4 separate regions of the Homo sapiens genome follow, and regions 2, 3 and 4 are each linked to region 1. The links come from fine-mapping of genetic effects on gene expression. A gene starts in region 1. Each other region holds a variant in brackets. All regions are shown on one strand. Distances are between the middles of the regions.

Region 1 (7,961 bases):
ACCTCCCTCGGCCTCCCAAAGTGCTGGGATTACAGGTGTGAGCCACCGCACCCGGCCAAGATCTAATTTTAAAGTAAGAAAAAGCAAATATCTCCAATAAATTTCTCTCCCTTCATTTTGCACCATTGTGAATGGTTCTCAAAGGGCTGTCCGGGAAGCAGCCACCATCAACACCACCTGGGGAGCTAATCGAAATGCAAATTGTGGGGCAACTCCCCAGACCTGCAGAATCAGCCTGGGAGGTAGGGCCCAGCAAGCAGAGTCCGCACATGCCAGCTCTCCCGGGGACGCCCAGGCGCGGTGGTTTCACAACCTCGGCTTAGGGGTTGAGTCACACTGGCCAGGTTCATGTGCTAGGCAAGCAAGAGTACAGAACTCTCCAACTTCTCTAGACTTGTTCCGCTCTATAGAATAGAATTACAGACTTGTCACAAAGATTAAATAAGAAAAATACTGTACATCCAAAGCGCTCAAGAGCCATGGAGGGGGCACGGAAGACACTCAAATGTAAGCAGCATTGCTACCACCGGCAAGGCACGAGGACGATGCCAAACTGGAGGGGGAAGTGGAGGGAGAAAGACATAGGAGGAAAAGGCTTCTTGTCCCTGCCCCTACGAGCTCAACACCCAGTGACTAGGCCAGATGCAGAGGAAAGTAAAAGTGCCCTTAGCCGGGCGTGGTGGAGCGCTCCTGTAATCCCAGCTACTCAGGAGTCTGAAGCAGGAGAATCGCTTGAACCCGGGAGGCGGAGGTTGCAGTGAGCCGAGATCGCGCCACTGCACTCCAGCCTGGGCAACGAGAGCGAAACTCCGCTTCCGAAAAAAAAAAAAAAAGAAAAGAAAAGAAAAAGGAAAAGGAAAAAAAAGAGAGAAAATAAAGGTGCCCTGCGAGGAAGGGCACACAAGTTGATTGGGAGACTAAGAAGGAACAAACTCTGACTATGCAATATAAGAGAAGACCACAGGCCGGGAGCGGTGGCTCACGCCTGTAATCCCAGCACTTTCGGAGACCGAGGCAGGCGGATCACCTGAAGTCAGGAGTTCAAGACCAGCCTGACAAACATGGCGAAACACCGTCTCTATTAAAAATACAAATATTAGCGGGGCTTGGGGGCAGGCGCCTGTAATCCCAGCTACTCGGGGGAGACTGAGGCAGGAAAATCGCTTGAACCCGGGAGGTGGAGGTTGCAGTGAGCGAAGATCGCGCCACTGCACTCCAGCCTGGGGGGATAGAACGAAACCCTCTCAACAACAGCAGCAAAAAAAAAAAAAAAAGAGAAGACCTTAAGGAAGTGGCTGCATATGAGCAAGAAAGATTTCCATAGGCTGAAAAATGTCATTCCAGCCAAAAGACCAAGATCTCAAGGAGGAGGAGAAACGAAAGCCAAGGTAGCAGCCACAGAAAAATCCTGTAGCAGGAAATAAAATCGGTCATCCCACACCACAGGCCTCAGCCTGGGGAGAAGACCCCGCCTCCGCAGGGCACTCTACCTGCACGTTCTCATTTGCAAACTAACTTCCCCTTTTGTTCCCTGAAGGACTGGAGACTTCTCCTCTGCACTGTTGGCTGATCAAGCCATTGTCTGCGGCAAAGTTGAATTTAAAAGAGATGAGGCCCAGCGTGGTGGCTCAAGCCTGTACTCCCACCACTTTGGGAGGCCTAAACGGGAGGATCACCAGAGTCCAGGAGTTCCCGACCAGCCTAGGCAACACAAGAAGACCCCATCTCTAAAAAAAAATTTTAAATTAGCCAGGCGTGACCCAGGGCGGTGGCTCACGCCTGTAATCCCAGCACTTTGGTGGCAGGCCGAGGCGGGCCGATTGCTTTCAGCTTGATTCAAGAGTTGGAGACCAGCCTGGCCAACATGGTGAAACGCCATCTCTACTAAAAATACAAAAATTAGCCGGGCGTGGTGGGCACGCCTGTAATCCCAGCTACTCAGGAGGCTGAGGCAGGAGAACGGCTTGAACCCGGGAGGCAGAGGTTGCAGTGAGCCGAGATCACACCAGTGCACTTCAGCCTGGGCCACAGAGTGAGACTCCATCTCAAAAAAAAAAAAATTAGCAGGGCATGATGGCATGCGCCTGTAGTCCCAGCCACTGAGGAGGCTGAGGCAGGAGGATCGCTGGAGCCCAGGTGTTGGAGGCTGCAATGTGCTATGATTGTGCCACTCTGCGCTTCAGCCAGGGCAACACAGAGAGACCCTGTTTCTAAAAAAAAAAAAGAAAATTAAGCCGAAAGCGATGGCTCACACCTGTAATCCCAGCACTATGGGGGGCCAAGGTGGGAGGATCGCTTGAGCCTAGGAGTTCAAGACCAGCCTGGGCAACAAAGTGAGAACGCATCTCCACAAATAATTTTTTTTAAAAAAAGGAGGTCAGTAGTCAGCAAGAGCTGCGCATCGCCAAGAGTGGACACTACTCCAACAGCACCCCACCTGTGAACATCCCCAGCCGCAAATCAGCGCAAATCCATAACCTAGGGAGGACAAAATTCGCTACACGAAAAAGCAAAAGCTGGATTAAGAAAAAGTGGAGAAGTCGGGGAGCGGGAAGGAGACAGCTTTTTCCATTTCATTTTCCTTCTTCCTCTGCACTCCCGTCGTCTGGGTGCTGGCTGAACCCAGACGGCTTAATTTTCATGGCCTAAAGCTGAAGTTTTCCTTCCGGTCATTGTGTTTATTTCCCCCAAAGAACAGGCCCCGCGGGGCAGGCGCGCCGGGCCGGCCCGGGACAAAGCCCACTGCGGACTCCACCTGGGAGCGGGGCGGGGCGGGGGACAGCGCTCCCGCTCCCCCGCCCGCCGCAGTTACCAGGCAACGCGCGGCCCCGCCCCCGCGCCGGTTGGCCAATCCCGCGCGTCTGCTGCCCCGGCGCAGGAGCCCCAGATACACCAGGCGAGCGCGACCCCACGACGGCTCGGGCCTGGCACCGCGCGCGCCCCCGCACCGCCTAGCCGGCCAATCAGCGCGGCGGGGCATGCGCAGCCCGCAGGGCCGCTCGCTCGCTCGCGCGCGGGATCGCACGCGCGAGGCGCCCCCCCACCGCACGCCGGTCGGCGCGCGCGCCCCTCCCCCACGCGCACTGAGGCGCGCGCGTGCCACTGTCGTCCCCCGCGACCGCGTCCGTGCCGCCCCACCCCCATCGCCTCGTTTCGGCCACTGCCAAGGCCGGCGGGGCTCGAGACCCGGCGAGGCGGTGGGGGTGGGGGTAGGGGGAGGCGGCACGGGCGCCCCCCAAGGCCCCACACCGCGCGCGGCGGGCCGCGGCTCCCAGGCCCCTGTCCCTGCAGGCCCCGGCGGGGCAAAGTCTCTAATAAAGGCCCCCGCTCGCAATGGCCCCCGAGGCGGGGGCGGGGGGCGCGGGGATGAGGCGAGAGGGACTCACCCGAGTGCGGCCGCCTCCAGGCAGCTCCGGGGCCGGGGGTGCCGAGGGGAGGCGAGTGTGGGCCGCGCGCGGGCTGCGGCCGCCGCGGAGCAGCCTCGGCTGAGGGGAGCTGGCGAGCGGACGGGAGGCGAGAGGGGGCGAGGGGCCCGTGCGTGTCGGTCGCGCTCCTGTCACCGCCGCATGGCCGCCCCGCAGGCAGGGCCTCGCTCAGCGCCTTGATCCGATCACTGGGGGACAGAGGCAGAGGCCGGGGTGACCGCGGCAGGCGGGCGGCCGCGGCTGGAGAGCGCGTGCGGGGAAGCGGGGGGGCGACCGGTGGCCCCTTTTCTCTGCTCTCCCAGCTTCTCTCTCACCCTCCTCCTCCTCCTCCTTTTTTTTTTCTTTTTTTTCTTTTTTTTTTTTTTTTTTTTTTTTTTTGTTCCTCGAAGGCGCGTTGCGCCTGCGCATCCGCAGCGCCGCCCAGCGGGAGTTGTAGTTTCGGATGCGTTCCCCGTCAACGCGGCGGCGGCGGTCGTGGACTACAACTCCCAGGAAGCACCGCGCCGGCTAGCCCCGAACCCGAGGACGAGGCAAGCGCGGCGCCCGGCCCTCTCCAGCAAGGGCTGTCAATGGAGGCGAGGGTGGTGGGAGCGAGAACATGGCTGCACCTGGGGCCTGCGCGGCCGCCCGGGTGGGGGAGGGGAGCCGGGGTGCAGAAACGGAAATCTGGACGGGTGGTGGCTCCGGCGTCGTCCCCACCGAGCGCCAGCCGCCGTCCAAGTCCGCCACTTGCTCTTGCACCCCACATTCCTTGCAAATTGCGAGGCAGGGAAGCTGCAAAAGCCGGGGAGCCCCGGGCTGGGCCGTCGCCCTCCTTGCTCTGCAAAAGGGGAGTCCTTCCGCCTTGCACCACCCTCCAGGACACAAAGAACTCCTCTCTAGTGTTTTCCAAGCTGGCCTCCAAAGAGACCGTTGCCCCCAAGTTCGGACAGGCGAGAGGGGAGGAGACCTTGTGTTTTAATTCCTCCCCCAGACCCTCCGCCTCTATCTCTCCCTCAGGATTTGGAAGGAAACTTGCAAGGGAGTGGGAGCAGAAATCCTGACTCGTAGCTCCTGTTTTGTTCTGTCAACCGCGATGCGATTTAACTCAAACTCCTCCCCCTACCACTATTTTTTGCTTCTCAACTTGAATTAGCCGGTGGGTTTTGAAAATGGAGAGACATTACTGTTCACCTAAGTTAAACTCCAAAACTTTACAACCCCGAGGCCGACGATTTTTAGATGTTTATGTAAAGCACGAGATTGAGTGGTTTTTTGATTCCCGCCCGCCCCCCCACCCAGTACCACCCACTGGGGATTCGGGCCACGACGGCCATCCTCCCCCCACCCGCCGCTTCTCGGTAGGTGGCGACCACGACGCTTTTTCCAGCCTCCAAGCCTTTGTCGCTAGCGAGAAAACTTTCCGAGCAGCCAGTCTTTTGATGTGGGTTCCAAAAACCTTTCCTTTCAATCTGGGTTCTCCGATTGGCATTCCCCATCGTCTCTCTTGCACAGACCGCACCCAATAAAGCCTCCTCTAGAATTTTCATGTTGGATTTTTTTTGAAAAATACATGGAGAGCGTAAAGCTCACCGGAGAAGCAATCTGATTACAGAAGCCTGAATTTTTGCGATTTCCCGGACAATGTCTAGGATCCCTTCGGTCCTTGCCTAATAAGATTGTGACTCTCCTTTGTCGATTGTCTCGAAAGTCATTCATTAAGTTTGCACAAGAGCAACTTTCTTTTTGCACTTGTATTTCATTGACATTTAGTAATATTTAATTAAATTCTCTATTCCCAATACCACGTGCCACTGGCATATATTTAGGAACAAATTTAACTCTTGAGAAGCCTATAACTCACTCTAGTAAGAGCAGCCAGCCTACGAGATGCAGATTTCAGCTGCTGTGGACTTCAGTGAGTATCTTTTGTTGAGAGAGTGGTTTCTCCACCTGGAGGGGTCAGGGAAAGGATTTCCTGGGTATAGTGGAGTCGTGGAGTAGAATTTGGGGGGATGTTACAAAGTGAGTTAGCAAGGCAGAAGTTTATTTAGCCAAGATGACTCTTATCATCGTGAAAACGTTTGGAAGGTAGTTCCTTTCTTCTATGAATTTGTTTAGTGGTTCACAGTGGAATTTTTTTTTTGAGACCGAGCCTCGCTCCGTCACCCACGCTGGAGTGCAGTGGCGCGATCTCGGCTCACGGCAACGTCTACCTCCCGGGTTCAAGTGATTCTCCTGCCTCAGCTTCCTGAGTAGCTAGGATTATAGGCGTGCACTACCACGCCCAGCTAATTTTTGTATTTTTAGTAGAGACGGGTTTCTACTAAACATGTTGCCCAGACTGTTCTCGAACTCCTGACCTCAAGTGATCTGCCTTCCTCAGCCTCCCAAAGTGCTGAGATTACAGGCGTGAGCACCGCACCGGGCCCACAGTGGAATTTTGCTGCCTCTTCATAAACAACTCCAACTTCTTTGAGACTGAAGCAATTCCTAAAACGGTTAGGTCAACATGAGCTGGTTTTGAATTACCTCTAGTCAGAAAGCTGTCTCTGTTGAGGCAATGTGTATGCAGACAAAGCGTTTTTCTGAGCATTTTGCCATTAAGGTTTGTAACCCTCAAATTCATGTGTTACAGTCATAAAGATCTTGCGTGTTCTGTCTTCATTAAGGTCTGGCTCACTGCGGCTTGTTGGAACACTTGTCAACCAATTTCTCCTTCATCTTAGTGGCATAGATACTACATTAATTGTGGCCATTGTTATAAATCACTTTGGATACTATCTCTCTGCAAAGCTGGGGTTTTGTTTTACTTTTTTTTTTTCCTGTTTTTGAGACAGGGTCTTACTGTATCACCCAGGCTGCACTGCAGTGGTTCGATCACAGCTCACTGCAGCCTCCAACTCCAGATTCAAGCCATCCTCCCACCTTAGCCTCCCAAATGCCTGGGACAACATGTATGTGCCACCACACCCAGCTAATTTCGTTTTTTGTAGAGACGGGTCTCACTATGTTGCCCAGGCTGGTCTTGACTTCTTGGGCTCAAATAAGCCTCCTGCCGTGGCCTCCAAAGTGCTGCGATTACAGGCATGAGGCACTGCACTGGGCCCAGGTTTTTTTTCAAATGTAGGATCAGATTACTGTTTTGGGGATTGGGCAACAGAAGAAAAATAATAGTTGATTTGTGTCTAAAAATGATGTAGTAGGAAGTCCTCCTTTATTTTATTTATTGATTTTTTTGGGAGGGGACGGGGTCTTACTCCGGTGCCCAGGCTGGAGTGCATGGTGCGATCTTGGCTCACTGCAACCTCCAACTCCTGGGCTCAAGCGATTCTGCTGCCTCAGCCTCCCGAGTAGCTGGGATTACAGGTATGCACCACCATGCCCGGCTAATTTTTGGATTTTTAGTAGAGACAGGGTTTCACCATGTTGGTCTGTCTGGTCTCAAATTCCTGACCTCAAGTGATCTGCCTGCCTCAGCCCCCCAAGGTGCTGAGATTACAGGCGTAAACCACTGCACCCAGCCAGGAAATCCTCCTTTAAAGACTAGAATCGGGCTGGGCACAGTGGCTCATGCCTGTAATCCCAGCACTTTAGAAGGCCGAGGCAGGCAGATCACCTGAGGTTAGGAGTTCGAGACCAGCCTCAGCAACATGGAGAAACCACATCTCTTCTAAAAATATAAAATTAGCCGGGCGTGGTGGCGCATGCCTGTAATCCCAGCTACTCAGGAGGCTGAGGCAGGAGAATCGCTTGAACCTGGGAGGGAAAGGTTGTTGTGAGCCGAGATCATGCCATTGCACTCCAGCATGGACAACAAGAGCGAAACTCCGTCTCAAAAAAAAAAAAAAAAATACTAGAATCACAGGATGCATATACCAAGAGATGCAGACTGGATTGGGGCTTCAGCAAGAGCAGATTTGCGGCTCTCAGCTCATGGTCAGTCAGGACATAAGTACAGAGTCCAACAGCTGGCAGAACCATCCATGTTATTTCAATTATTTCCCCCTCTCTTTTTGTTAATGTTTAGCTTAGTCTTCAGATAAGCGTCCATATGATGTGACTTTTCCATTCTTCTGTTTGGTGGGAAACAAAGCCAGGTCAAATGGGCCTTGGCCAAGCTAGAGATGGATCTGGACCCCACGTGAGCACTTCCACCAACTCAGATGCATCTTCGCTTAGACTCTGGGCTTAGAGCTTCGTTGACTGCTTTGAAATAGCATGTGATTGGCGCGGTGGCTCATGCCTGTAATCCCAGCAGTTTGGGAGGCCGAAGTGGGAGGATCACGAGGTCAGGAGTTTGAGACCAGCCTGGCCAACATGGTGAAACCCCATCGATACTAAAAATACAAAAAAAATTAGCCGAGCATGGTGGCATGTGCCTGTAATCCCAGCTACTCGGGAGGCTGAGGCAGTAGAATCGCTTGAACCGGGGAGGCAGAGGTTGCAGTGAGCTGAGATCGCGCCATTGCACTCCAGTCTGGGCAAAAGAGCGAGACTCCGTCTCAAGATGGTGAAACCTGTCTCTACTAAAAATACAAAAAATTAGCCGGGCGT
Region 2 (7,961 bases), 830 kb before region 1:
CCCTTTCCTTTCCTTCTCCTTATGGGAAACTCCGTTCTAACCCAGAGGACTTGGGCTCCAGGACCCAGTAACGGAGCCCTGGATTTGACCCTAAAAGGGAGTAAAGACAAAGGTGAAGTTCAGTCCGGGGTTCAGGGCTGCCAAAGCTCATAGCCTGGAGCTTCTTAACCTTTAGGCAGGGTAGAGACATTTAAGACGGCCCCAAAACTGGGGGAGCGCGTAGGCTCCTGGGAAATAGAGTCCGTTACTTGTCCTGGGACCCGCGGTGGGTGTCCCGGGAGGCGGACTTCCGGTGCACTCCTGCGCTTGTGCACCTCTCCCTGCGTGCGTGTTCGCACATGCGCGCCACCTCCGCACTGCCCTCGCTTCCTGTGCCTCTTCAGGTCATCGCTTGCTCTCGTTCCCAGGCTTTGGCTTCTAGTGGACGAGAATCACCGAGTCTGCGGGGCTGGATGCTGACCGCCCGGACCAGCACCTAGGCGGGCGGGAGCTGTGCGGCCCAGGGTTCGCGCGGGCCGGGTAGAGGCTCGAGCTGGGACCCCCGAGCGTGAACCCCGGAGCCGGCGGCGCTGGGGCCAGAGGGGCCGGGAGCCCCAGGGAGGCGGATCTGGGCCCCGAGAAGGACACCCGCCTGGATTTGCCCCGTAGGCCCGGCCCGGGCCCCTCGGGAGCAGAACAGCCTTGGTGAGGTGGACAGGAGGGGACCTCGCGAGCAGACGCGCGCGCCAGCGACAGCAGCCCGCCCCGGCCTCTCGGGAGCCGTGGGGCAGAGGCTGCGGAGCCCCAGGAGGGTAAGTCTTGGGTTTTTGGGCCCGGAGCGAGAAGGGCCTGGGTGAAGTCACCTTGTGTTGGGGACCTTTGAGTGTGGGGCAGAGGGAGGGTCCCGATTGCTTGCCGGAGAGACATGTGTTGGGTTTGAGGGCAGGGTCCGGCTGCACCGAACAGGTGCTGCATGGGAAGATCTGGGAGGACGAGGCTTACGGAGGCGTGGAGGGTGTCACCACCCTCAGCTGCGGACGTCGTCTCCACTCCCCGCTAACCCCTAACAGTCCTTCCTCCTCCTCTCCGTGCTCCAGATTTCGACCGCCTCTAAACGTCCGTCAGCACTTCTATTCTCTCACTTAAGTGTCTGCTGATCCCCCCCCTTAGACCTGCCCTGGGAGAATCGTAGTAATGCAGGAACAGTCTGCAGGGATTCTCTGCTGCTGCCTCAGTTGCTAGGGGAAGAGACTGGGCCTTAGGTGGGTGACTTGACCAGGTCACCGGCTTTGTGGGTAGAGCTGCTCATAGTAGAACCCAGGAGACTTATCTCCCAGGCCAGTGTTCTTTCTCCCGTATCCTAGTTTTCTTAATAGAAGATTATTAGGTGCAGCAATAACCAAGTTCAGTTAGATAATTTAGAAACAAAACCATATTTTATACACATTCATTTCATTTCTGAGAGCTCACATACTCAATTCCTATGGCTTATTTTATTTTAAGCAGTTTAAAGAGACAATAAGAAAATGCGGGCGGGATGCAGTGGCTCACACCTGTAATCCGAGCATTTTGCGGGGCTAGGGCAAGAGTATCCCTTGAGACCAGGAGTTAGAGACCAGCCTAGACAACATGGGGACACCCTGACTACAAAAAATACAAAAGTCGCCAGGCATGCTGGGATGCATCTGTGGTCCCAGCTACTCAGGAGGCTGAAGTGGGAGGATGGATGGAGCCCAGGAGGTCGAGGCTGCAGAGAGCCGTGAATGCACCACTGCACTCCAGCCTGGGTGGCAGATTGAGACCCTGTCTCAACCAACAAACCACAAAAAACATGAGCCGTATAATGGGAATTTTTTTTCTTTTTGCGCCTTGTATTTGATGATGATGGCAGACTATTTGTAAAAGGAGTCATGTTACCCATGAGAGTCTAACTCATCTAATTACTACCTGATTATCTTAGAGTTACAGGCGCATGCTTCCCCTATCACTCTTTTTTTTTTTTTTTTTTTTTTTGAGACAGTGTCTCTCACCCAGTCTGGAATGCAACAGCGTGGTCTCGGCTCACTGCAACTTCCACCTCCCAGGTTCAAAGGATTCTCGTGCCTCAGCCTCCTGAGTAGCTGGGACTACAGGCATGTGACTCTATGCCTGGCTAATTTTTTTTGTTATTTTTAAGTAGAGACGGGGTTTTGCCATGTTGGCCCAGGCAGGCGGATCACTTGAGGCCAGAATTTGAGACCAGCCTGGCCAACATGGTGAAACCCTGTATCACTCTTTTAGACCCTTCTGAGTGTTTGCAGGTTGAGTGTTCACAGGGTGTTAGCCTATTGAGCTTTCTTTTGCGGTTCTTATGCAGGTGATTTCTGCCTTTGCAGGCCGGAGCCCTCATGACTTCAGTGACCTGCTTCTGCCCCTCTAGGTCTATCAGCCACAGTCTCTGCATGTTTCCAAGAGCAGCAGAAAATGAACACATTGCAGGTGAGTTTTCCTGCTTGTGTATATGTTCCTCAACTTTATTTTATGATGCATTTTAAGAGGTTTGTAAGGATTCATACTTTTTTTTTTCTTTTTTTTGAGATGGAGTCTTGCTCTGTTGCCCAGGCTGCAGTGCAGTGGCATGATCTCGCTTCACTGCAACCTCCACCTCCTGGGTTCAAGTGATTCTCCTGCCTCAGCCTCCTGAGTAGCAGGGATTACAGGCGTGGGCCACCATGCCCAGCTAATTTTTTGTATTTTTAGAAGAGATGGGGTTTCACTATGTTGGCCAGGTTGGTCTCAAACTCCTGACCTCAGGTGATCCTCCCGCCTCAGCCTCCCAAAGTGCTGGGATTACAGGCATGAGCCACCGAGCCCAGCCAGGATTCATACTTTAAAATGGGAATGTGGAAATAGACATTATCCTGTAAAATATAGTTAGTGTGGCAGATCAGCACCAAAAATGATTTGTGAAGCTTGTATGTATGGGTAGTATATTTTAAGGCTGTTGAAATTGAGCCGCACCTAGGACTGATACTCTTGGCAGTCATCACAAAAGGAAAATGCCATCTGTATTAGTCCATTCTCACACTGCTATAGAGAAATAACCAAGACTGGGTAATTTATAAAGAAAAGAGGTTTAATTGGCTCACGTCTGCAGGCTCTATCATAGGAAGCGTGGCTGAGGAGTCCTCAGGAAACTTACAGTCAAGTGAAAGGTGAAGGGAAAGTGGGTGCATCTTCCATCACCAGAGCAGGAGGAAGAGGGAACATTGGGGATTACAATTGAACATGAGATTTGGGAGGCGACACACACCGAAACCATATCACCATCCATGACATCGTTTGCATTGATTATAAGGAGAAACCAGTTTTGTTACTTGTGGACTTAAAAGATTTTCTGGGACTTGGAAAAATTTCTTCATTCAAGTTGATATAATTGTGGATAGCTTTCCTAACAACAACCATTAAATTACTGTAACTTATGGCTTATTCTTGGTGCTTATGTAAGCAGAGGGCCTGCTGCCCAAGGAGAACTTGGTGCATATAATTTTTCCAGGGACGGAAATAT[C/T]GTGATCCAAGTAAACAATTCTGTTTTTACTGTTGAGTCCTAGATCATGGGGGGAATGAATGACGTGATCATCCGTCAAATATTTGTTCGTCTTTTTGTTCGGGTTGCACAGCAAACAATACAAACAGTTACTCTCTTGTGAAGATTTCCTCATTTCTGTTTCTCATTTCACTTCTCCGTGTTTTCGTTTTGTCCTTTTCACTTTGCTAAGTCAGTCAGTAAAGGTGACCAGTGATTTAATTGCAGTCAAATCCAGTGGGCATTTCCTAGCCCCTTCCTCACAGTACCCTTTGTCTGCCTTTGACATCCGTTACTTCCAAACTGATATTTTCTCCATGGAGTCTCTCTTTTCTTGGCTTTTAAAAAGATTCATCTGTAAGTATTTGTTTGTCTTTAAATGGTGAAGTCTGTTTTGTTTTGTTTCTTTTTTTCTTTTTTTGAGATAGGGTCTTGCTCTGTCACCCAGGTTGGAGTGTAGAGACGTGATCACAACTCACTGCAACCTCAATCTCCCGGGCCCACACGATCCTCTTGCCTCAGCCTCCCGCCTAGCTGGGACTACAGGTGCACGCTGCCACACCTCGCTAATTTTTTTTGTATTTTAGTAGAGACTGGCTTTCACCGTGTCATGCATGTCGAACTCCTGAGCTCAGGCAGTCTGCCCGCCTCGGTGTCCCAAAGTGCTAGGATTATAGGCGTGAGCCACTGCTCCCGGCCTAGAAATGTATTCTCACTGTATTGCTCAGGCTGGTCTCAAACTCCTGGCCTCAAGCAGTCCTTTCACTTTAGCCTCCCAAAGTGGTAGGATTACAGGTGTAAGCCACCACACCTGACCAATAAGGAATCTTTTTAAAAGGGGCTAGGAATAACCCATAATACTGTCTTTCTTAATACATGTGGCAGTTGGGTTAAATCTTTTAATAGTTCCCATAGTATGTCTCCTGCGTGCTCATTGTTTTGAAGAAACTGGGTTGGTTATCCTCAGTTTGGATTATGTTACCCTTGTTTCACCTTTAGCACATTTTTTAAAAATATCTTGTATGCCTTGGTAAAATTGGTAGTTTGATCTGGAAGTCTAATCAGGTTTATGTTCAGTTCTTTTCACACAACTATACCATACGTGGCATTTGTCTACTTCTGGAGGCACGTGTTACCTTCTTTGTTTTTGTGAAGTTAAGAACTATTGACTTGATTATTGCTGTGATTTACTATTGCTGTGATTTGCCTTCATTAGGGGAGGCAAAATGGTGATCTGCTAATTCTACCATTTCTTCTTTATTTACTAGCCAAAATACTTTTCTTTTCTTTTTTTGGAGACAGAGTCTCACTCTGTCGCCTAGGCTGGCACGTTTATGGCTCACTGCAGCCTCAAACTCCTGTGCTCAAGTGATCCTCCCACTTCAGCCTCCCAAGTAGCTGGGAGTATAGTCATATGCCACAATGCCCAGCTGATTTTTTAATTTTTAGTAGAGACAGGTTTCTCTATGTTGCCCAGGCTGGTCTTGAACTGGGCTCAAGTGATCCTCTTCTTTAACCTCCCAGTGTTGGGATTATAGGCATGAGCCACCACGGCTGGCCTAGAATACTTTTCTAAAGATAAATTTCTATTCTCTATTTGTTTATGTAATTCATGCAGGAAAGACAGTTTCTAAAATATTGAGTAGGCTTTTAAGCAGGAGGGTATTTTGTTTTGTTACCATCATGAGCTCATGGGTTTAAACAGATAGTAAATATTTCAGTACATAGAAGTTGTGATTCTTTTTGAAAATTAAGTGGTTCCATCTTTGGCCAGACGGAATCCCTTTAAGTTGGTTTCTGAGTCCTTTTGAAATATATTTGATATATATGATAGCAAATATATACATATAATATATGTTTGATAGCAAATATATACATATATATTTGATAGCATTATTTTCTATTTAGCATTTTATTTTGAAATCATTTCAGATTTTCAGAAAAATTGCAAGGATTTTACAAAGAAATCCCAGATACTTCCTTTTGTTCAGATACTTCATTCTTAACATTTTCCCACATTAATCATTTATATGCCTATATACGTATGTGTATATATATATATTTATATATATATATATATTTTTTGAACTATTTGAGAGTGGGTATAACGTGTCATGCCTCTTTACCCTATAAAGTTTTAGATTACAGCTCATAAAATCAAGAATATTATATTAAATATCCATAGCACAGTAATTGAATTCAGGAAATTTATCATTGATTTAATACTTTTATCTAAACTATAGTTCATTTTCCAGTTTTGCCAATTTCCCAATAATTTCCTTTATAGCAATTTTTAATTTTTGGTAGAAGATTCAGTCTAGGACTGTTAATTGCCTTTAGTTTTCATGCTTTTTAAGTCTGTTTAATACGGATTTGTTCCACAGTGCCATTATAACATTTGAAGAATACAGGCCAATGATTTTATAGAAGTCTTTAAATTTAGGTTTCCCTGATCTTTCTTCATGATTAGATTTAGACTGTGAATTTTTGTCTGGAATGCTACATGGAACCTCTTAAATTTATGGCTCAGAACAGGATCTGTCTTGGGAAAATTCTGTGCATGCCTGAGAAGATGGCTTGTTCTGCTCTGGTTGGGTGGAGTGATTGATAAATGTTAATGAGATCAAGTTGGTTGGTTGTGTTGTTCAGGTGTACTATATCCTTGTTGATTGTGTGCCCACTTGTATCAATTGTGGGGGAGAGGGGATTGAAATCTGCTGCAGTTGTGGTTCTGTTTCTCTTTGCAATTTTACCACTTTTTGCTTTATGTGTTATATTAGATACATAAATGTTCAAGGTTATTACGTCCTGTTGATTAATTAACCACTTTGTAAAATGGCCTTCCTTATCCCTGCTAATATTCCAGGCTGTGAAATGTACTTTGTTATTTATGTAGCATTCTTTTGAGTAATACATGCATGGTATATCTTATTCCATCCTTTTACTTTTAACCTATTTGCATCTTTATATCTAAAGTATTATTTCTTACAGGCAGCAAAATTTGGATCTTGCTTGTTTTCATCAGTCTATTTCTGTCTCATAATTGGGGATGTATAAACCGTTTACATGTAATGTGATTATTGATAAAACGAGTTAGGTTATAGTCCGTTGTCTTTGCTTTCTTTTAGTCTCATCTTCTTTGTTTCTTTTTAAAATGTCTCTGTTTGTCTTCCTTCCTTTTGATTAGTTGAGAATTTTTTATGATTCTACTTTATGTCTTTTGTTGGGTTTTTAGCTATCACACTGTTTTGTTATTTTAGTGAGTTAGAATTTATAGTATGCAACTTTAATTGTCATAGTTTATTCTTAAGTAATATCCATTTTTCCTAGAATAAGAGAAGCTTACAATAGGACACTTCCATTTCTCTCCTCTTGGTCTTTACACCGTTGTTCATTTTATTTTTACAGGTGGTATCAGTGCCACACACTATCTATTACGTTGTTGTTAATTAAACTGTATTTATTTATTTATTTATTTATTTATTTATTTATTTAGAGACAGAGTCTCACTCTGTCCCCCAGGCTGGAGTGCAGGGGTGCTATCTTGGCCCACTGCAACCTCTGCCTCCTGGGTTCAAGTGATTCTCCTGCCTCAGCCTCCTGGGTAGCTGGGATTACAGACACCCACCATCACGCCCGGCTAATTTTTGTATTTTTAGTAGAGACGAGGTTTCGCCATGTTGGCCAGGCTGGTCTCGAACTCCTGACCTCAGGTCACCCATCTGCCTCAGCCGCCCAAAGTGCTGGGATTACAGGTGTGAGCCACCACACTTGGCCCAGGTATCTTTTAAAGAGATTTAAGTAATGAGAGAAAATACACAGTTACCATTTCTGGTACTCTTCATTCCTTTGTGTAAATCTAAATTTTTATTTGCTGTCATTTTACTTCTGCCTGAAGGACTTTCTGTAACATTTCTTCTAGTTGATGATGAATTATTATATGTCTGCAAATGTCTTCATTGTGTCTTTGCTTTTAAAGGTGTTTTTGCTGGATTTTTCTCCACAGTGCTTTAAATATGTTTCTCTGTTGTCTTCCTGCTTACATTTTTTTCTAAGAGAAATCTGATCTCATACTCATGTTTGTTCCCCTATATATAACATGTCTTTTTTTCTTCCCCCCTTATTGTTTTAAACTTTTTATCACTAGTTTTGGACAATTTGATTGCAATATGTCATGGTATCATTTTTTTCATGTTTCTGTTTTGGGGATCATTGAACTTCTTGGATCTTGGGTTTATGGTGTCATCACTTGGGGAACATTTTTATCATTATCTCTTCAAGTACCCGCCACCTCCCCTCCATTGATTCTTGTTGCCTGTATATTAGGCCACTTGAAATTTTCCCACAACACACTGTTGCTCTTTATTTGCTTTTAATTCTTCTTTCTCTGTTTCATTTTATGTAACTTCTGTTGCTG
Region 3 (7,961 bases), 840 kb before region 1:
GTCAAGTCTAGAGTTCAGAGCAATTGAGAAATGCAATTTTATCTGCTGCCTTTCATTCTATACCCTGCTTCTGAACCTTGGTGTTCAACTGTGAAACTCACACTTTGGTGACGACTCCAAAACTCACTTAATACACCCAAGGTCAGCCCCAGTGATCTGCTTCATAGCAAGGACTTTGGGTGGGTCTGCCCAGGGAGTAGGGCACCCTCAGAGAATGTGGCTTTGGACTTCATCACAGCTGGGGCCTTTTGTGTCTCTTAAGATCCAGACTTGTAACCATGCTAGATGTGTTTCTAATGTGACAACATCACGAACCACGAGTCCAGAAGCCTAATCCTTAATCCTACCTCCTCATGATGAAGTCTTATGCTCTGTGCTCACCGTGGTTAGCTGCACAAGATGTAAACCAAAGCTTCACTGAACCCTCGACCCAAATCGGTAACTCAAGTGCATCAATCATAATGAACCTCCCCCAACTCAGTATTTATGATTATTTTTGAGGCAGGGTCTCACTCTGTCGCCCGGGCTGGAGTGCAGTGGCAGGATCAGGGCTCCGTGCAGCCCCGACCTTCCAGGCTCCAGCGATCCTCCCGCCTCAGCCTCCTGAGTAGTTGGGAGTAGAGATGCCTCCCACATCGCCTGGCTAATTTTTGTATTTTTGTGGAGAGGGGATCTCGCCACGTTGCCCAGGCTTGAAGCCGGATCAAGCAATTGGGTTCTTCGGATTTCCGAAATAGACCCCAATATTCTGCCTTTACCCCGGAGGATGCAGATGTACCTTCTCTCAGGCCGATGACCTCAGGCCTCCACGGTCCCTGGAGCTCTAGGAAAGGTGAGCGCGATCTCGCGCCCACACCCAGTGCTCTGGGTCATAAGCCTGGATCTGGAAAAACAAACGCCCTTTGAGAAGACGGGGACTCGCCAGGATACCCCTCTCTCCCCTCATCCAGCCTCCAGCCCACCCGATTCCTCCCCACCTCCTCCACCTCCCCAGGCCCCACCTACCTCCTCCAACTCCTCCGGGGAAACCCAAGCCCTGCCGCTCATGGAACAGAAGAACTGGAACCGACGTTTCTGGAACAGGACTATCTGAGAGCGGTTCTTCCTGGCCCTCAGGTTCATGGAACGGCCTAACTGGAACCGACGCTTACGGAGCAAGGGTATGCGAGAGCGGTTCTTCCTGGCCCTCGGGTTCATGGAACGGCCTAACTGGAACCGACGCTTACGGAGCAAGGGTATGCGAGAGCGCTTCTTCCTGGCCCTCGGGTTCATGGAACGGCCTAACTGGAACCAACGCTTACGGAGCAAGGGTATGCGAGAGCGGTTCTTCCCATACAGGAAGTGGAAGATGTTTTGTTTGGAGTCCTCGTCGTCCTCCTCCATGTCATTGGCCAGGTAGCTGAGGACAGAAATCAGGTTGCTGCTCAGGGGCACCACCAAGAGAGGCCTCCGGCTGAGGTCAGCTTCCCAGAGAGGAAGGTAAGGGACCGTCCCTAGCTCAGGACTGGCACCCACCCTGCAGAGAGCCACGCCTTCCTCAGGAGGGCTCTGCTGGACAGAGACCTGATCAAGGGCGTCTCCCACTCCTTCAGGATGGAGACAAAAACCCAACTGGTGGCCGAGAGTGGTGGCTTATGCCTGGAATCCCAGCACACTGGGAGGCCAAAGCAGGAGGATCACTTGAGGCCAGGAGTTTGAGACGGGCCTGGGCAACATAGCAAGACCCTCGTCTCTATTAAAAATATAAGAAATATGCCAGACGCGGTGGCTCATGCCTGTAATCCCAGCACTTTAGAAGAATGAAGCAGGTGGATCGCTTGAGACCAGGAGTTGGAGACCAGCCTGGTCAACACGGAGAAACCCCATCTCTACTAAAAATACAAAAATCAGCCTGGTGCGGTGGCACACCCGTTAGGCCTAGCTACTCAGGAGGCTGAAGCATAAGAATTGTGTGAACCCAGGAGGCGGAGGTTGCAGTGAGTTGAGATTGGGCCACTCCATTCCAGCCTGAGAGGCAGAGCAAGACTCTATCTCAATAATCAAACAAACAAACAAACAAACAGTCCAGGTGTGGTGGCACAGCCCTGTAGTCGGAGCTAATAAAGAAGCTGAGGTGGGAGGATCGCTTGAGCCCAGGATATGGAGGCTGCGATGAGCTATGATCTCACCACTGCACTCCAGCTTGGGGGACAGGGGAAGTCTGTCTCAAAAAAATAAAAGAAATTGAATACATTGATATTTTGCCAGGACCCTGCCTTCTACAGGCATCTAGTCTAATGGGACTGGGAGTAATCAAGGCAGATGACCTAATCCCAGTGTCCAGGATGTAACTAGAGAGCTACGGGCATGCAGAAGTTGGAAGATGAGGGAAGGCATCACAGAGGCTGTGGGGTGAACTGACTTCAAGGAATGGGTCCTTCCCTTCAGAGCCACATGTGTGCGGGACACCCAGACAGAAAACACAAACACAAAGTCGAGTGGAGGGCATTTGGAAGAAGCAGTGAAGCCGAGCCAGGAAATACCAAGATGGCGAGCCAGTGTGCTTGTAGAGATTGTAGAATTGACACTGTGGACCCTGGCCTCGATAGAGAAAGGCATCAGCTAAGGAAGTTGTTCAGGTGGGCAGTGAGGTTGTCGTGCTTTGGAAAGATGTTCAGGCTGCACTAGGAAGCCCCCTGGCTTGGGGAGAGACTCCAGGAGACCCCAGCAGGGAGCATTTGACAGTGGATTCGAGTGATGCGAGGGGGACCTGAACTGTGGCCTCTGTCATGGGAACCCAGAGGAGGTCGATGGCGTTTGTGGTTGATGTGGGAAGGAGAGAGAGAGAAGAACCAGAAACGTCTGCTTGCTGGAGGAAGCGGCATGTCCGCTCCTCCACTCCTTTTCTTTTCCCCTTAGGAGCGGTTTATGGTTCCTTTTGTTTTATTCTTTTATTTGTACACTGGCATTGGAGTTTGTTTTTTTGGCTTTTTTTTTTTTTTTTTTTTTTTTTTTGAGAAAAAGTCTCACTCTGTCACCCAGGCTGGAGTGCGGTGGCTCGACCTTAGCTTACTGCAACCTCCACCTCCTGGGTTCAAAGGGTTCTCTTGCCTCAGCCTCTCGAGTAGCTGGGATTACAGATGCACACCACCACGCCCAGCTAATTTTTCTATTTTTCGTAGAGACGGGGTTTGGCCATGTTGGCCAGGCTGGTCTCGAACTGCTGACCTCAGGTGATCCGCCTGCCTCGGCCTCCCAAAGTGCTGGGATTACAGGCGTATGCCACTGTGCCCAGCCTGAGTTTCTGTTTAGAAACAACAGTCTATGATAGTATAATCCTCTCTTTTTTGTACACAGAGTAAAGAGGACAAATAGGTGAAAGAATAAATGAAAGGCTGGAATCCCACTTCCCCCGCTGTCCCAGGGCATTGGATATTGATGGATAGGAGGCAGCAAACCACTCACAGAGCCAGGAAGAAATGAATGCGTTGGTATTGCCAGGAGGGGAAGCCGGCCCGGCTGAAATACGCTATGACCATAGCCAGGAGATACTGATGGAGAGAAAGGAACACAGAGAGGGAGAGGTCACATCTTGGAAGAGGAAGATTGTGGAGAGGGGGAATGAGGGTCTGGGGAGGGGCTGCCCATCAGAGAAGGGACCTCAGTGTTGGGGTGACTGTACTCATTTGGAAATTGCGGGATGGAGGGGTATTCGAAGGTCGGATGCAAATCCGAGAAGCCAGAGGAAGGGTTTTGGGTGATGCTCCCAGGATGGTGGGCTCCGATGGGATCTTTGGAGGGGGTGTGTCTAGGTCGGCTGGTGTAAGGAGGGTCTTTTGTGTGCCAGGCAGAGAACTGTCCTGAAGAGCTGAGAGTAGAGGGGCCAGGAGCTTCAGGGCTGCGGCCAGACTGTGGCCCAGAGCTCAGATCCCAAAGGACCCATAGGAGAGGCAGGGGCCACTCATTCACTCTGCAAGAGACCAGCAGAATCCTGAGGGAGATGCTGACAAATCATAAAAAGACCAAGAATAGCCGGGAGTGGCGGCTCAAGCCTGTGATCCCAGTACTTTTTGAGAGGTGGAGACAGGAGGATCATGTGAGCCCAACAGTTCTAGAACAACCTGGGCAACATAGTGAGACCCTGTTTCTACAAACATTTCAAAAATTAGTTGAGCATGGTGGCATGTGCCTAGTCCCAGCTCCTCAGGAGGCTGAGGAAAGAAGATTGCTTGAGCCCAGGAATTAGAGGCTGCAATGAGCTATGATCATGCCACTGCACTCCATCCTGGGGAGCAGAGCTAGACTCTGTCTCACAAAAAAAAAATTTGTGGGTGCCAAGACTCAAGACCATGGGAGCTGGTCGGGCACAGTGGCTGACGTCTATAATCTCAGCACTTTGGGAGGCCAAGGCAGGTGGATCGCCTGAGGTCAGGTGTTCAGGACCAACCTGGCCAACATGGCAAAACCCCGTTTCTACTAAAAACACAAAAATTAGCCAGGC[G/A]TGGTGGTTCATGTCTGTAATCCCAGCTGCTTGGAGGCTGAGGCAGAAGAATCGCTTGAACCCGGGAGGCATCGGCTGCAGTGAGTCAAGATTGAGACACTGCCCTCCAGCATGGGCAACAGAGCAAGATTCTGTCTCACAAAAAAAAAAAAAAAAAAAAAAAAAAAAAAGACTGTAGGAGCATCTGGTGGGAGGTGGTGGAGGGAGAACTGTGGGTTTGGAAGCTGCGCCCTCCCCCGAGCCATGCGTTGGAACAGGAACAGTTACATGGAGAACAACCTTACCTTGTCCGACACCCTCAGATCTTTGTCCCAGGCCAGGAATCTTTTAATGACAGGATCCTCTGTGATTAGAGAGCAGATGTCAGTGTGAGAAGCAGGACAGGGTTTCCGTGGGAGCAGCAGGGCAGCGAGGAGAAGTGTGCCTCCCGGGGGGAAGTCTCAGGATTGTGGCCGCGGGTGAGGTGGATGGGAGAGGGGAGAATGACTTTCACTGGGCAAGGGAGAGAGGCTCCTGCTCTGAGACTCCCCTGAGAAGAGGCCGAAGGAGGCCCTGGGTGTGAGAATCTACAGGATGTAGAGCTGGGAATCAACCAGGACCCCCTCCAGCAGACACGGAGGGACCACTGCAGAGTCATAAAGGAATTCCCATCATTTCCTCATGAGACAGTCACATCAGGGTGTGACCATGGCCTTGGTATCCCTCACTATGGATGGAAACACTTAGGTTTAGAAAAGTCAGTAAGAGACATTAAGTTTCAGAGGGCACAGCTGAAACCACTTTCTTTGTTTATTGATTTTGTTTTTCTTTATTTGATTTTTATTTTTATTTATTTATTAATTTATTTTGAGACAGAGTCTTGCTCTGTGGGCCAGGCTGGAATGCAGTGGCCTGATCTTGGCTCGCTGCAACCTCTGCCTCCCGGGTTTAAGCGATTCTCCTGTCTCAGCCTCCCGAGTAGCTGGGATTACATGCATGAGCTACTGTGCCCAGCCTTGGTTTTTCTTTTGAGACAGTGTTTTGCTCTGTCACCCAGGCTGGAGTGCAGTGGTGTAGTCATAGCTCACTGCAGCCTCAAAGTCCTGAGTTCAAGCAATCCTCTTGCCTCAGCCTCCCAACATGCTGGGATCTCAGGCAGGAGCCACTGCACCTGGCCCGAAACCAAGCTTTCTTATCCCAAGCGCTGACCTTTATCAAGTTGACCTAATCCTTTATCATCTCCTAAGTGTCCCTCATGAGTGATCACTTCACATTCCTCCCACATGGAGAGCTCACCCACTGGGGCATATTTTTCCCATTGGAAAAGTGTGGTTATTGGAAGTTTCCTGTTTTTGGAAAGAACAGGATTGGAGGTGCTCTCTGGGGTGTCCTCCTACCAAGCAGCCTGTTGAAGGCCTCGTGGTGCTCAGGGAGCACGAGCGACACTCGCCGTCGCTTCAGCTTCATCTTGAGGCCACACAGCATCTCCGCCACCCAGATCTCCTCAGGCTCAGGGGCGAGCACCTTCCGTGGCTCCTCCTCCAACGACTCCTCAGATTCGTCCCACCACTCCATCTTCCTTTTCCAGCAAAAGGACCTATGCGGGGGGCTGGGATCTACCCCAGGGGCTGAGTAAAGAAACCAGGCCATGGTGTAATGCTTCTGCAGTTGATCACACTAGAGCCCAACCCAAAACCCCAAACCACTCTCCATCCTCCCCAGCCTCGCAGACTGCTGGCTTCTCCAAGCCATCTTTCCTTCTGTCTGTCTCCTCTGCTGAGCTCCATGTGCTGCTCCTTCTCCTCCCCATTCTCCCGTTTCTCTGTCCTCAGAACACTTCCTCATATCCTTCCCTGGTCCCTGGCTCTCTGAGTCCCTTTTTTTTTTTTTTTTTTTTGTTGTTGTTGTTGTTGTTGAGAAACAGTCTTGCTTTGTGGCCTAGGCTGGAGTGTAGTGGTGCGATCTTGGCTCACTGCAACCTCCGCCTCCTGGGTTCCAGTGATTCTCCTGCCTAAGCCTCCCAAGTAGCTGGGATTACAGGTGCCCACCAGAACGCCCAGCTCATTTTTGTGCTTCTAGAAGAGACAGGGTTTCACCATGTTGGCCAGGCTGGTCTCCAACTCCTGGCCTCAAGTGATCTGCCTGCCTGGCCTCCCAAAGTGCTGGGATTACAGGTGTGAGCCAGTGCACCCTGCCTCAGTACCTCCATTCTTCCCACACACCCTCCTCACGTGCTCCTTCCTGACTTCTGGGCCCTTCCTTCCTTCTTTTTTTTTTTTTTTTTTTGACACAGCGTCTCAAAAAAATGCAGTGGCGCTATCTTGGCTCAAAGCAACCTCTTCCACCTGGGTTCAAGCAATTATCCTGTCTCAGCCTCCCGAGTAGCTGGGATAACAGGCATGCCTGGCTAATTTTTGTATTGTTAGTATAAATGAGGTTTCGCTATATTGGTCTGGTTGGTCTCGAACAACTGACCTCAAGTGATCCACCCATCTTAGCCTCCCAAAGTAATGGGATTACAGGCATGAGCTACCACACCCGGCCTTCGTTTTTCTTTTGACACAGGGTTTTGCTGTGTCACCCAGGCTGGAGTGCAGTGGTGCAGTCATAGCTCACTGCAGCCTCAAAGTCCTGAGTTCAAGCAATCCTCTTGCCTCAGCCTCCCAACGTGCTAGGATCTCAGGCGTGAGCCACTGCACCTGGCCCGAAACCAAGCTTTCTCATCCCAAGCGCCAACCTTTATCAAGTCTAGCCTAGTCCTCTATCGTCTCCTAAGTGTCCCTCATGAGTGATCACTTCTGAGTCCTCCTGCGTGGAGAGCTCACCCACGGGGGGCGTATCTTTCCCATTGGAAAAGTGTGGTTATTGGAAGTTTCCTCTTTTTAGAAAGAACAGGATTGGAGGTGCTCTCTGGGGTGTCCTCCTACCAAGCTGACTGTTGAAGCCCTTGTGGTGCTCAGGGAGGATGGGTGACACTCGCTGTTGCTTCAGCTTCATCTTGAGCCCACACAGCATCTCCACTACCCAGGTCTCCTCAGGTTCAGGGGCGAGCTCCTTCTCCGGCTCCTCCGCAGATTCATCTGACCACTCCCTCTTCCTTTTCCAGCCAAGGGACCTACATGGGGGGCTGGGATCTACCCCAGGGGCTGAGTAAAGAAACCAGGCCACCGTGTAATGCTTCTGCATCTGATCACCTTAGACCCCGACCCAAAACCCCAAACCACTCTCCATCCTCCCCAGACTCGCAGACTGCTGGCTTCTCTAAGCCATCTTTCTGATTTTCTCCTCTGCTCAACCCCATGTGCCGCTCCTTCCCCTCCCCATTCTTCTCTCTCTCTGTCCTCCGAACACTGCTTCATGTCCTTCCCTGGTCTCTGGCTCTCTGAGTCCCTCCTTTTTTGTTTTGTTTTGTTTTGACACAGAATCTTGCTTTGTCACCCAGGCTGGAGTGTAGTGGTGCAATCTCAGCTCACTGCAACATCCATCTCCTGGATTCCATTTA
Region 4 (6,284 bases), 59 kb before region 1:
ACCACCACACCCAGCTAGTTTTGTATTTTTAGTAGAGATGGGCGTTTCACCATGCTGGTCAGGCTGGTCTTGAGCTCCCGACCTCAGGTGATCTGCCTACCTTGGCCTCCCAAAGTGCTGGGATTACAGGTGTGAGCCACCGTGCCCAGCTGTGAGACATTAATTTAAAAGGAAAAACGCAATGCTCATTTAATAACTATTAATATGAAGTGATAGTTAATAATTCTATTAGCTGAATTTTCAAATAATTCAGGATAAACTGGCTCAGCTGAGTTCAAGCTTATCTTTGGAGAAAAAAACAGGTTTGAAGCAATCTTAGCTATAGAGAGTATTGTAGAATATATTTGTAGCTATTGCTTCAAAACAGTTTTGAAAGATAAATTGTATGTCAGCCTCTAAGTAGTATTTGCGGGTCGTTGAAGGGGGCAGGGACTTGCTTTAAAAATTACTCACTAAACTATCAACACTTTCTCCTCCACTTTACTTAATTAGAAATTAGGGATTCCAGCTCCAAATAAGTCTTCTTCTATCACAACCCAATAGATTATAGAATCTGTTTTTGTGTGTATCAAGTCTGGTCATAATTTTCTTTTTCTCTTTTCAACTCCCACTGATAGCAAGGATAGCTTGGGCCACCCGTGGGCCAATGCTAATTCTCACGGCCTCATTCTGTCATCTAAAACTCCCAAAGCACTGGGGAGTGGGCTGCTTTGGCCACACAGACACATGTATTCGTCCCACAAGTCTCCTTTAAAAATGAATGAAATGCATATTTAGCAATGTGAATGTGACAAGTATTTTTATGACCAGAAGTAAACTTTGGAATCAAGGCTTTTAGATAACTAACCTTCAATAGTCACCTCAACTTCAGGGTCCTCACTTGTTTCTGAAGGGACATGTTGAGTAGAATCTTGAAAAAAATAAAATTCTAAAATGACATTCATTATTAAGCATGTTTCCATATGTTCCAACATTTTACTGATTTGATACTCCAAAAGCAGCCTACTATAAAAATCCACTGGCATTTTCATTCATTTCATATTAATGAAATTAAAATTTGACCCTTGTCATTATAAATAGGGATAAAAGAAAACAAAAATTAGAAAAACTCTGGAAAAATTTAGATGATAACATGTTACCTGCAGAAATTGACTCAAAAAAATCCCATAGTCTTGGAGGAATGAGGATATGACAAAGTCACAATGAATTTCCTGCCACAGCTAGAAGATGCTCGGATAGAAACAAATGCTTTCTACTTTGGTTAGAATTTCTTCTCTCCTTTCAGAAATGTGAGGAGTGGTTTCTACTGTTCAATAAAACCACAACCCAGGCTTTACAATGGAGACTTTCCTATCAAGAGACTGAGTGTCACAAGTGCACACAAGACTATATCCTCTGGCTTTGTATGCAACATATTTCAAAAATTACAAAGTTCATTCATATTTGTTCCTACACAAGACAAATGTACATCAGAGTGTTAGTGCTAGAAGCTTATAGAGTATTTTCATTAGTTCTCTTTCATTGTGCAAAGGTTGAGAGATTAATTGATTTGCCAAAGATTATGTTTACTTGTTAGTAAAGGAATAAAGGCCAGAACCCAGATTCGATTCAACTTTGTTAACACTGGAATATGACAGTAAAAATGTCCTAAAAACGCAGTCTTCAAGGTGCAGTACCTGCCGGCGGGGCTGCAAGGCGGTGAGCCATCGGTACTGCCCAATGAGCCCTCGTACTGCACATGATCTATTACCTAGGTCTTGTTGTTCTAAATCCCGCCTATTCAAAGCTGAAAACTCTGTCACTCAGAAGATACCCACCTCCACACAGTAAAGCATACAACATTCACCCACACAATCTTCTATAAAAAGGGCTGACAGGGAAATGTAACCAACGGTTTACAATGAGCATATCAGTATTTTTGAGAGAAATGTATTCCAGGGAGAAACCCTAATTCTATAATTGAATTTGGAGAAACCAGCCTATACTGGGGAACTTTTAAGATTGCCTTTCCCTCAAAGAAGGTAAAAGATCAAACAAATGTTTTTTTTTAATTAAAATAAAAATGTAAATACAATGGAATATAAGCAGTTACACAACAGACTCCTCTTTTCATTCTAGAAAAATAAGGGATAACATGACCAATTTATGAGAGAAATAATTCTAAAACAAGATTCAGTTACCTTACCAGTCATTTTCCTTGGGAGAAATCTACAAAAATTTGTGTGGAACCGTTTAAACACCTTGGAAATAAGAAGCCACCCTACATGATAAGTTGAACTCAGGATTCTAAACAAAAAGAACTGTACCTCAGTCAGGCGTTCAATTCTAAAACCAAAGCTGTAGAGCTGGTAAACTGACAAAGTCATTTATGGAGTAGTTGTGAGTACAAAATAAAGGGAGAAACTCTCTCCTGTATAAATTTTATGTAGACTAAATTCCTACCCTACTAAGAGACTAG[A/GA]AGTATTAAAAAATACATTTGAAAATAAAATATGAATGGAGCTAGTAATTTTAATTCTGAAACACTGAAGCTATTCTTCCTTAAAAGATATTTAATATGGCACAAGAAAACCAGGACAAAAAAAAAAGTAGCATTTTGCATCATGTAAGAGCTTTACTTACCACTTAGTTTCATTCCCATAGGCTTTATTAATCAGTATGGTCAAAGAAGTATATTACATCTTAGAATTTTTAAAAAAATAATAACCTGTTGGCTAGGAAGGCATACCAAGGGAATCACCTTTTATTTCCAAATAAGGTGTTTTAAGGATAATAGAATCTATAAAATAGAATAAACATACAACAAATAGTGGAAAATATGCAATCTCTTTTTCTCCTAACCTTCTGCTGGTACTTCCATTTCTGTGCCTTCATTGCCCTCTGAAGAATGGTGGCTTCCTAAAAAGAAAATAAACAACATATAATAAACCAATAAAAACTGACATTGAAAGATGAAAGAGAATCTAGGTAACAATGCAAACAATCTAAGACATAATAAACATATGCAAAATGATTGTCTAACTCTTTAGCAGTTAAGTCGAACAATGTTTTCTAATTCAGAAAAGAATACAACGCTTCTATTTGGAAGCTAAAAAAATTATTTGAAAACACAAATACAGAGTAGACCTAAGTAGGTTTGGGGATTTAATATTAGTTACTATAACTACATGATAAAATTACTAGATATTGGAATCTGAGGAAGCAGAATTATGCTTCAAGTACCATGCTCATCTGTCAAAGACACACATACACAAACAGATCAGAGTAAATGCTTGCTGTGATCAGACACTTAATTAACTCCCTATAAATAAGTTCAGGGTTTGCTGTGGAATGTTTCATGCTTTCCATTTTCACTATGGTGAAAGCCATGGAAACTCAATCCCCATAATTTCATCAAAGTTGTACTTAAAGGAAACTCGTAAGTTAAAATTTAAGATACTACCTTTAGTCTCAAAAGCATTTTAAGTCAGGTAATATAATCTGCCTGCTTCTAAAAACTGGAACATAAAGCAATGATCAGTTAGGCAGTCACAAGGTGAACAGGCTCATCCTACTAGAGCAGAAGTTTTACTCACAAAAAGGAAAGGAAGAATCTAAGACATCAGAGAGCCACTTAGGATTAAGAACGCAAGCTGCCCCCTAATTTGTATCCTCTGTCCTTAAAGATCTGAGCTACTAACATGGAAAAGATTGAAAAACACTGCCTTTAAGTACCAAAAAAAAACATATTACCTATTAGTAAGAATACATCGCTTGAGGGGAAAGGAAGCAGATGTTCATCTCTTTTGTCTTATCTATTGAGAACTAAATTCAGAAGCTATACTAAAAGTAAGATATGTTATAAATGTATTTTATCTTGATTTTTAAAAAGCAATGCTTACGGTCTGAAAAACTGTCATTTGGTAGCTAATATCCTTGAATTAAAAGTCCCATACTGAGGTCACATCTTTTTGGTTCTCAGTATCTAGCTTTAGCATGTCACAATTATCTGGGGATTCTTTTCCACTTACTTTATATTGTGAAAACTCACCTGAACTCAAACTCTAGGTAAATCTACAAACCTATACCTATGAGTCACTCTTTAATTCATTTTTAAAATATGCTTTCTCTACACACTTCCTTTCTCTTTTTTTAATCTTAATATTTGAATTTATGGAGCATTAAGTTATTTGACTGTAAAAGTCAAAGAAAAAAGAGATGTGAGGTCAAAGGAATGAGAGTGAAATGATGAGGCCAGTAGGTAAAAAGTAAAATTTCAGCAAAGAATAACAGTTAAGATGATTGTTCGTGTAAGCAATAATTCTGTATGTCTTTTAAAATCTGAAATAAACAATTACATTTACATTATATGCTAAGCCTAAAGAAAATACATCTTATGCACTCAAAGCCAGAATAGATAGAAGTAAATGCCATTACTAATAGCCTATGAGTATCAAGTTTGGGAACACTGTAAAAAATTGCCAAAAAGGCAATCAATTCGAAACTTACAGATTAACAAGTGCTATTTCAGAATTCTTCTAAATACTAAGTATCAACCTGACCTTATCAATATTTGCATCACTAACCAATAAAACAGTAACCTGGCTTCTGACTGTTCTGAGATAAGGTATAAATGTGTACTTTACCTTCAATAGGAAAGTGTGTCATGTACCCATTTCGAGATTCATTACTAGATTCACAAAAGGGAAAATTGATTTTTGAAAAATTGTTGCTTGTGAAGTTCATTTATATGTTAAAAAAAGGCCAATACATTTTTTTCCTTTTCCATTTAGAAAAGTAATACTGTACTTATAAATATTAAAACACAGTCTGTGCAATATAAGGAAACATTAAACACAAGCAGTATGTGGGAGAATGGAAGTGAAAAGATTATACCTTGCAAAGGCTTCGATAGGGGCTGTTTTTCATCAACATCATCAGTTTCAGAAGGGCCTGCTTTGGGATACAAAGATAATACTTCAAAAGTAATCCCCCCCAAAAAAAAATGTGGGGTGACTTTAGTCAACAAATTTGGGTGAGATACATGGAATGGCCTTTTTATAAATAAAAAGAAAAAAATTAAAAAAAAAAAAGACTGACAAGATGAGCAATGTCAATTTATGGTCTTGGTGAATGGAAAAATGTAATCAGGTGAATTCATATGTAAACAGTCAAAAGAAATTTTGAAGATGACTGGACATATGGATTGAATGGGAATGGTATGTCTAAAATGGAAGATGTGGGTTTTTTAAAACAGTACAATGTTCATAACAGTAAACTGTAACTTTTACTTCATACAGATTACAAATGCAGGTTTATCTCACAGGTTTATTTGTTTCTTCTTTGGCAAATATTTGCTTACTCTTTTGTCATACTGAAGAAAAATGCAGAACCAAATGTTATATACCTTCCTTAGAATCTCTAAAATAACGTAAACCATCTCCTTGAATCTCTACTGAAATAGAAATGTGACAAACTAACAGCTATTAATTCATTCTCCCTTTCTTCCAGCACAGCGGGCACTTTTTCTAATAAGGTTCTTTCCAAAACACAGAAAGTACTCTGAGTTAAATTCAACTTCACAAACTGCTATATTTTGACAACACATTTACATGTTATCATCAAACTTTTTAATGATTAAAATAATAATAGTTTTAAAATAGAAAACAAAACATTGTGTTTTCAATGGCTATTTAATATAAAACACATTTTGGCATTAATATGACCACAGTTCAGTTAACTATCTCTGAAGAGAATTGGGAAAACATCCGAAGTTGTTTGAAAGGCTTCATTCTCTAAAGCCTAAGAAATTTCACAAAGATGCACCACACTACACATTACAGGCAAAGGACACATCAGAGAAAAAAATCAATTGCATGAGAAATAAAGAAATAGTTTCTATTTGGAATCTCAAAGAAGAGCAAGTCTTGGAATGTAGACTCCTAAATTCAAATGCTAGATCCACTGCTTCCTAGTCTTCTGACTCTGAGTAAAATATACAGAGCTCAAGAAAAGGAAGATGTGCTATTTACAGGATTTAAAAATGCAACCTTAGTGAAGGCTACTAATTGACCTCTAAGTACTGCTTTAGTTGCTCTTCACAAGTTTAACTATGTGGCATTCTCAATATTCTGGTCTAAATATTTTTAATGAGGCCCTCATTAAGTCAATTACAAGCATGTTTCCTAGGATTCCCACTGTGTATGTTTTCTATTAATAATTTAATTTCAGTATGTTCAGAGAATTTATTAAGACTGTGAACAAGTATACAGTCAATTTTTATAAATGATTCATGCTTTGTAAATAAA

The links. PIP is the estimated chance that this variant, and not a neighbour inherited with it, causes the effect.
Region 2: its variant is the best candidate, but not a certain one, in a credible set for the expression of GTF2I in substantia nigra (GTEx, PIP 0.85).
Region 3: its variant is the best candidate, but not a certain one, in a credible set for the expression of GTF2I in whole blood (GTEx, PIP 0.60).
Region 4: its variant is the best candidate, but not a certain one, in a credible set for the expression of GTF2I in whole blood (Lepik 2017, PIP 0.63).

What each region holds. Positions count from the first base shown.
Region 1 is chr7:74,653,494-74,661,454 of GRCh38, reverse strand. GTF2I (general transcription factor IIi) reads right to left here and starts at 3,737. Exons shown (of 35, transcript NM_032999.4): 1 at 3,387-3,737. RefSeq lists enhancers at 1-243, 1-279, 1,168-1,307, 3,758-3,807, 3,828-3,947 and 1 more and silencers at 2,578-3,097, 3,168-3,457, 3,478-3,657, 4,028-4,187.
Region 2 is chr7:75,478,694-75,486,654 of GRCh38, reverse strand. POM121C (POM121 transmembrane nucleoporin C) reads left to right here and starts at 356. Exons shown (of 15, transcript NM_001099415.3): 1 at 356-791. RefSeq lists silencers at 449-598, 619-688 and enhancers at 132-631, 969-1,048. The variant C/T (reference allele first, on the strand shown) is at 3,527.
Region 3 is chr7:75,494,800-75,502,760 of GRCh38, reverse strand. It overlaps SPDYE5 (speedy/RINGO cell cycle regulator family member E5), which reads right to left. Exons shown (of 9, transcript NM_001306141.4): 3 at 7,387-7,605; 4 at 5,857-6,087; 5 at 4,765-4,823; 6 at 3,445-3,530; 7 at 1,006-1,399; 8 at 779-883. The coding sequence ends at 824. Among named protein-coding and RNA genes, the nearest start is that of SPDYE5, 6.5 kb to the right of the region's middle. The variant G/A (reference allele first, on the strand shown) is at 4,481.
Region 4 is chr7:74,713,505-74,719,788 of GRCh38, reverse strand. It overlaps GTF2I (general transcription factor IIi), which reads right to left. Exons shown (of 35, transcript NM_032999.4): 10 at 4,873-4,932; 11 at 2,839-2,895; 12 at 848-910. All of the region lies in intron 2 of GTF2I-AS1 (GTF2I antisense RNA 1), which reads left to right. Among named protein-coding and RNA genes, the nearest start is that of GTF2I-AS1, 12 kb to the left of the region's middle. The variant A/GA (reference allele first, on the strand shown) is at 2,459.